Homo sapiens: one gene and its partner. The protein of the gene in region 1 purifies or fractionates together with the protein of each later gene. This does not show direct contact. Each region holds a gene or a part of one and is shown on either strand. Other genes may lie near its edges. The genes, in order: ARL8A and RDH14.

What was found.
Region 2: the proteins of ARL8A (region 1) and RDH14 purify together in Homo sapiens (co-immunoprecipitation; 2 studies listed by BioGRID and IntAct, with this or other methods). This does not show direct contact.

The regions. Positions count from the first base shown.
Region 1 is NC_000001.11:202,137,959-202,141,869, forward strand, and holds part of ARL8A (ADP-ribosylation factor-like protein 8A), read right to left. Parts: intron 491-3,911; coding exon 410-490; intron 81-409; coding exon 7-80; intron 1-6. UniProt on the Homo sapiens protein: Plays a role in lysosome motility. In neurons, mediates the anterograde axonal long-range transport of presynaptic lysosome-related vesicles required for presynaptic biogenesis and synaptic function. May play a role in chromosome segregation.
Region 2 is NC_000002.12:18,558,803-18,562,713, reverse strand, and holds the start of RDH14 (retinol dehydrogenase 14), read left to right. Parts: upstream 1-2,060; 5' UTR 2,061-2,141; coding exon 2,142-2,534; exon of another isoform or gene 2,535-2,538; intron 2,539-3,911. UniProt on the Homo sapiens protein: Retinol dehydrogenase with a clear preference for NADP. Displays high activity towards 9-cis, 11-cis and all-trans-retinol. Shows a very weak activity towards 13-cis-retinol. Has no activity towards steroid.

The DNA of each region.
Region 1 (3,911 bases):
ACTTACACGATGGCGCTCACTCCTCGGCAGTAGCGCTCCCACATGCTGCGGAAACGCGGCTGTCCCCCAATGTCCCAGAGCTGAGCAAGAAGAGGGTGAGATAGCCTCAGTAGTGGGCAGGCCACCAAAACGTGTCTTGGGTCTCAAATGCCCCCTCCTACCCTGCCCTACTCTCCTCTGCCTCCCCGGCTTCCTCTCCAGTTCTCCCCCGTCTCCACCCGCTCTCCGTCTACCTTAGAAGTCTTCTACTGTCTTTTCCCAGCTCCTCAGCAGGGGGACCCTGGCCTCTGCCCCACTTCAGCTCGCTCCTCCCAGGGGCCTCCGTTGCCCTCCCCAACACACACACACACACACACACACACACACACAAAAACAGTCCTCTGCACCCCCCAAGCTTCTGGGCCCTCACCTTGATAGTCACATTCCCTTTGGTGATTTTGCGCATGTTGAAACCCACGGTGGGGATCATGTCCTCGTTGAACTGTCCTGACTGGAAAGAAGACTCAGAATGGGAAACAGTGCAAAAATCGATATGCCCCCACCGCAGACCAAGAGGCTGCGAGAACCATGCAGAGGCCAGGCCAGAGCTTCCTAGACTTCCCACTGTGGGGTACTCTTGCACATCCTGTGCTTTCAGGCAGGATGGGCTATCACCAACCTATGTGTCCCGCCTACACCTGGGGATGCCCTGTGAAAAGACCCGCTTTTGTCAGACAGTCTCAATCTCTTTGCCTAGACTAGGGGAAAATTCTTCCTCAAGTCTAACCTACATCTCTCTGTAGTAACTGACGCCACTTTCTCTCCAGTGGAGAGGAAGAAGAAATTACCTTCCAGCAAGAGAACTTGAAGCAAGTCATGTTCTAATAGTTAAGGAGGATCTCAAAGAAAGCAGATGAATTTTCAAACTAAAAAATCAAACTTTTTAGGGCAGAGTATATTGGTCATCCTGAAAATGCAGTGCATGCCAAGCAATTTCTGGATTATCCATGGTTCAGTTTATTTGTACTGTACTCCAGTTATTGGGAAGGATAACCTACACTCTATATCGTCTGCTTATTTATCTATGTGTCTCCTCACTAGAAAGAACACTTCCTGGGAGAGGACCCAGGTCTATAGTAACACCATTAGTAAATGTTTGCTGAATACTGGGGGTTTGACTGTAATTCCATTTTCCAAAATCCATTCTGTATTGTCTCTAGGATTTCTGGATTCTTCTAAACTACCTACAGTCTTCAAATAAGGCCAGACCCAACTCCCTCCCAGGTCATATCTCCATGTTCACAGGTAGGACACTTCTGCTTATCCCTTGGAAGCAGGCTAAAGAGATGGGGCTCGGCCGGGCGCGATGGCTCACACCTGTAATCCCAGCACTTTGGGAGGCTGAGGGGGCAGATCACGAGGTCAGGAGTTTGAGACCATCCTGATCAACATGGTGAAACCCCATCTCTACTAAAGATACAAAAAATTAGCCGGGTGTGGTGGCGTGTGCCTGTAATCCCAGCTACTTGGGAGGCTGAGGCAGGTGAATCGCTTGAACCCAGGAGGTGGAGGTTGCAGTGAGCCGAGATCATGCCATTGTACTCCAGCCTGGGTGACAGAGCAAGACTCCGGCTTGAGAAAAAAAAAAAGATGAGGCTCATTCAACATTGAACCTGAGGGTGATAGCCCTGTTCCTTTTTTTTTTTTTTTTTTTTTTTTTTTTTCTGAGACAGAGTCTCGCTCTATGGCCCAGGCTGGAGTGCAGTGATGTGATCTCAGCTCACTGCAGCCTCTGCCTCCTGGGCTCAAGCGAGGGTCTCCTGCCTCAGCCTCCCCAGTAGCTGAGACCACAGGCATGTGCCACCACACCCAGCTAATTTTTGTATTTTTAGTAGAGACAGGGTTTCACCACATTGGCCAGGATGGTCTTGAACTCCTGACCTCAAGTGATCTGCCTACCTGGGCCTCCCAAAGCGCTGGGATTATAGGGGTGAGCCACGGTGCCCGGCCAAGCCCTGTTCCTTTACCATGCCTTTTTCTCCCACCAGCTGGTAGGAATAATTTGCCTTGGGTTACATAAAGAGATCAGGGGCCCTGACCATTAGCCAAGATGTAGGAGATGATTGGCTCTTATTTGGTGCCTCCATGTCCACATGAAGACCCCTGATATCCCATCTGAATAGACTGCTTTGATTCCCTTTTTTTTTTTTGAGACGGAGTCTCACTCTCTCGCCCAGGCAGGAGTGCAGTGGTGTGATCTCGGCTCACTGTAGCCTCTGCCTCCTGGGTTCAAGCAGTTCTCCTGCCTCAGCCTCCCAAGTAGCTGGGACTACAGGCGCGTGCCACCATGCCTAGCTAATTTTTTTTTTTTTTTTTTGTATTTTTAGTAGATTCGGGGTTTCACCATGTTGGCCAGGATGGTTTCGATCTCCTGACCTCGTGATCCGCCCACCTCGGCCTCCCAAAGTGCTGGGATTACAGGCGTGAGCCACCGCGCCCAGCCCAATTCCCTTTTATCTGCAGGAACCACCTATTCATCAGGGCCTTAGGATGATATAAGAACTGAGTACCCAGGACTGACACCCAATGACAAGGTCCAGCAGCGGTTTCCAACCTGAGGTCCACAGTTGGGCTTCAGAGATCCCCTGAACCCCCTGAAACTGTACACAATCTGTGTGTGTGCAAAGTTTTGTTTGTGTGTACATTTTTCTGGAGAAAGGGTCTCTCACTTCTTTCAGATATCAAAAAGTTCTGAGAGCCCCCAAAGTTAGGAACCACTGAGGAAGAGGGAATGGCTTCTTCTAGCTAAGCAGGGAGAATTAAGTGTGCTGTAATTACCCAAACCCCGGCAGCCTGCTGCAGTCTACCCCATCCCCAACAATAGAGTCTGAGGAAGGAGGCCCAGTTCTTGTTTGTCTCTCATCCCAGGGGGTGCTTGGATAAGAAACTTGAACTTCTCTGGACCTCAGTGTTTCTGAATGTAAAACTGGGGAGAAGGGTTTCGGTCTCCTAGGAACTGTAAATAAGACTCACAACATGCTTGGAAATGGTTTCGATATAGCATGGGGAACCATCACTGCTCTTTGGCAACTAGAAGATCCACAGGCTACCAAGTAAATGAGAAGCCCAGCCTGGCAGAATGTGACCTTGGCAGAGGGGGATGCTGGGAGGACCTTCAAGGAGCCAGGCTCCCCGGCACCAGTAGGTCTTGTTCAGCTGTGAATCGGAGCTAAGGTGGAATCAGATTATGACTTAATTTCCCTGCTAATGCCTCCCTGTCTCATAGGCTCCTCATTTAAGGTTGGAAGTAACCTGAAGTCATGCAGCCCAACCTCTTGTCTCAGACTTCAGTCCCTTCTGCCCCATCCCCTCTTGGGTCAGTTCCAACTATCAGAAAGTTCTTTATATTGAGTTAACAATCCGGCCGGACATGGTGGCTCATACCTGTAATCCCAGCACTTTGGGAGGCTGAGGCAGGCAGATCACCTGAGGTCAGGGGTTCGAGACCAGCCTGGCCAACATGACGAAACCCCATCTCTACTAAAAATACAAAAATTAGCCAGGCATGGTGGTGTATGCCTGTAATCCCAGCTACTCGGGAGACTGAGGCAGGAGAATTGCTTGAGCCTGGGAGGCGGAGGTTGCAGTGAGCCGAGACTGTACCACTGCACTCCCAGCCTGGGTGATAGAGCAACACTCTGTCTCAAAAAAAAAAAAGAAAAAAGAAAAAAAAGAAAAAAAAATCTATCATTCCTAGAATGTCCACCCATTGTTCCTAAGTCCCCTTGGGCACTCCAAGACTAGTTATTCCATAGGACAGTCTTTGACACTTTTAAATATTTGAAAATGACCCTGTTGTTTCCTAGGACAAAACATCTCCCACTTTTCTAGCATCACAACTTTTTCAGAACTCAAAGGATGTTTTAGGTTCC
Region 2 (3,911 bases), on another chromosome or scaffold:
ATAGAGTTATTAATTTCATGGCCTTTGGACCCATCTGGTACAGATTAATCATTTCATTAAGTTCCATGCATAAACTACACAGCAGTTACACTGCAGGTCTAAGGATTCCTCCCTCCTCTTTTCCTCCTACCCTCTCCTGCTCTCTCTACCTCCACCTTCATCTCTACTCCACCTGTACATATGTATTCCACCCCTGGCTCTAGATGAGAGAAGACCACAGCTGAAACACATCTTCTGATGCTCCCTAATTTTATGTAAACCAGTCCAAAATATATCAGTTGTGACATGTGACACTGAGTACCTACCATTTTGTAGGTGTCCTCCCATGCAAAGACCACAAGAGGTACGCAGACACAATCCTATCCTCTAGGAAACTTGAAACCTTAACAATCTGGTCAAGGAAGTCAAATGTGCAAACTCAAACAGCCAATACTAGAAGGCTGTTTGTCTTCAGTGCCAGTGAGGGTCACACATGACCCTGAGGGTCACACATGAAGGGAGCAGAGATCTTTATAGGCTGGAAGTGGTCAGGAAAGAAAGACTTGAGGTAGCCTGTGATTTTGATGGATGGGCAAGATGTGGATGGGTAGAAAGGACAATAAAGTGGAAACATATGCTGGGGGATCAATGAGTTTGAGTAGCAGCTTCAAATTGGGGATAGGGTGGTGTAGGACCACCTCTCATGATTCCTGTTCCTGGTGCCTTGTATAATCCCCAGTAAGAGTGCTCTTTCCCACCTCTGAGCTCCATTCTCATTACTCATAAGAAACCTCCTGGAATCCATCCCTTTTTCTTTGTATTCTGACTATTAGTTGCATGTTACATCCTTCCCAAATGTAAGGGAGTGGAAGATGGATTATCACAATTATTGGGGAGTTTGTCTCAAACGACACAAGCTGTGGTTCTTTTTCCTTGTCTGGAGAACCTGCAATGGGTGGAGGGTGGGAAGTGGGAGATCACAGTTCCAGAAAGTAAGCACCCTGAGAGCAGAAATGGTGTCCCATTTCTCTGTGGCTCTAACAGGGAACAGGCAGGGCCAGGCACATATTGGATGGAGAGGCAGACGAACGAATGAGTCTTTAAAAGTAGCTTGGTCTACAGCTATGAAGTTTGTAGCTTGAAGAAGGGTCCCTGTGACACTAACCCTGATATTAATGAGGCATTTTACAGTGAGCCAAGCACTTTGCCTTCCATCGTTGTGTGTAATAGTCCTATGGAGAGGGCAGGGAGGCATTTGTAAATGGCCTGCTCAGAAGCCTATATTTACAATAAGTCCAAGCTTTTCCCACTGTACCTCTGCCAGTGTGAAGATCATTTGAAGATGGCTTTCTTTTTTTTAATAGGGACCAATGACATAATGTCTTGTTCAGTGGTTCTCAAAGTGTGGTTCCCAGATCTGCAGCAGCAGCAGCACCTGGAAACTTGTTAAAAGTGCAAATTATCAGGCCCCATCCTGTACCTATTGAATTAGAAACTCTAATACTGGGGCCCTGGTTTTTTGTTTTCGTTTTGTTTCATTCCCCCACCCCGAACCCCCACCCCAAGTCCTCCAGGTGATTCTGATGTGCATTTAAGTTTGAGAACTACTCGACCATTCTATTTCCAACTGATTCATGTTGCTTAATTCTTTGTCTCATCTATGAAAAACAGTCCTACCTCAGACTTCAGCTTGTCAGGGCCCATTCCTCAGAAGGTGAATTGAACTGAATTTACAAGTCCCAAGAGCCCTCAAAGGAAAACACACGAAATGCCCTGAGGAGTGGCATTTGTAACAGGGCCTGTACAGAGATCTGTGATTCAAAGTACTCATCAGACATTCCCATGGGGAAGTCCGCCACTACTCTGGGATTTCAATACGTATGAACCCCAGCACCCTGAACACTGTGCTGGTTGCCCAGCCTCCATCATTAGGCTGGGAGGAGCTTCCACGGAGGGCGCAGGACCCAGGGCGCTGAACTCTCACAACCAATCAGGCGACCCCCCCAGAGGGAAACTACAAGTCCCAGCATGCCCCACGCGCACCGTCAGGGGCCGACCCGCCGCGCCCCAGCGTTCTCCGCGTACAGGTGGTCTCTTGGGTTCCGGTAAGGCGGCGGCTGCGGAACTCCCGTGGAGGGGCCGGTGGGCCCTCGGGCCTGACGATGGCAGTGGCCACTGCGGCGGCAGTACTGGCCGCTCTGGGCGGGGCGCTGTGGCTGGCGGCCCGCCGGTTCGTGGGGCCCAGGGTCCAGCGGCTGCGCAGAGGCGGGGACCCCGGCCTCATGCACGGGAAGACTGTGCTGATCACCGGGGCGAACAGCGGCCTGGGCCGCGCCACGGCCGCCGAGCTACTGCGCCTGGGAGCGCGGGTGATCATGGGCTGCCGGGACCGCGCGCGCGCCGAGGAGGCGGCGGGTCAGCTCCGCCGCGAGCTCCGCCAGGCCGCGGAGTGCGGCCCAGAGCCTGGCGTCAGCGGGGTGGGCGAGCTCATAGTCCGGGAGCTGGACCTCGCCTCGCTGCGCTCGGTGCGCGCCTTCTGCCAGGAAATGCTCCAGGTGTGGGCCTCGGGGGGCCGGGCTGGTGGGGAGGGCCTGGGCACGGTGTGGGAGGGGACTGCGGGCTGGGGCTGAGCCGCGAGGGACCGCCCTGGGGTTCAGGGTGTCACCTTGGGAACCGCTGAGGCTGAGAGGAGTCCAAAAAGCCACTTTGAGGCGGCCGGGAAGCTGCAGGGTTGAGAGGGAAAGAGAAACTAACTGGGAGGGCTGCCTTCTGTCCTCTAAGGATGTCGAAAAAGAAATGGGCCCAAGAGAAAAATAAATAAACCAGTTTCTGAACGTTTCATTTCGTTACGTGAGGACCGCCCCGAAGTAGATCCATGGCCTCTGAATTGTTTTTCCTGTGTCAGAAGTGAATTTGCACCAAGCTGTGTCTTCAGAACCCCTGAGCACTGGGGGAAGTTGCTAGCTAAGGACCTCATATCAGTCCTTTAAAAAAAGTTCTCCTTCCCCCGGCCTCTGCCCCTTTTCTGCTGGGGTAAGGAGCTCGCTGCCACCAGTAAACTCAGCACCATCCTTAACGGGACTGTGGCCTGATTTCCAAGTAGAATACATTTTGGAACCCAGTGGTCATGCTCCATACAGAGACAGGAATAAAAATAACACCCAGCATTATTGAAGATCTGTATGCCAGGAGCTGTGCCAAGCATTTCAGATTTTCCTTTTTGTCTTAAATGAAAATGAAGTGTCCTTGCCTATAACTGTCATTGAAGCTACACAGTAACCCTGTGGAGTAGGCATTATTATCATCCCTGTTTTACAACGCGAGGAAACTGAGGCATAGGAAGGCTAAGAAACTTGCTTGTGGTCTGTCTCCAGAACACTTGCTTTTAACCCTTGTTCTTTCCTCCTGCTGCCTGGCAGTGAGGTGTGAGGATTTCTTTGTGCAAATGGTAAGTAATTCCACATAAGTGGATGTTCTCCGTTGAGATTGAGGTAGAAGAGTTTCTTGCAGGGATAACTGGCATTCAGAGGGCATTTGTTCAGAAGAGTGAAATTTAAAATTAGCTGGGACAAGAAAGGTGCCTATATGACGTAGAGTCTCTTGAGTCTAGAGAAGAGGTTCCCAAATTTTCTCAGTAATTTTTTCATGATGCCCTTAGGCCAGAAATATTTCCCAGTTCATTTATTTAGAAAGTTTATTTTGCCAAGGTTAAGGATGCACCCGTGGCAGAACCTCAGGCGGTCCTGAGGACATGTGCCCAAGGTGGTCGGGGCACAGCTTGGTTTTATACATTTTAGGGAGACATGAGACATCAATCACATATGTAAGGTATACATTGGTTCTCCTGGAAAAGTGGGACAACTCGAAGTGGGGGCTTCCAGGTCATAGGTAGATGGGAGACAAAAGGTTGCATTCTTTTGGGTCTTTGATTA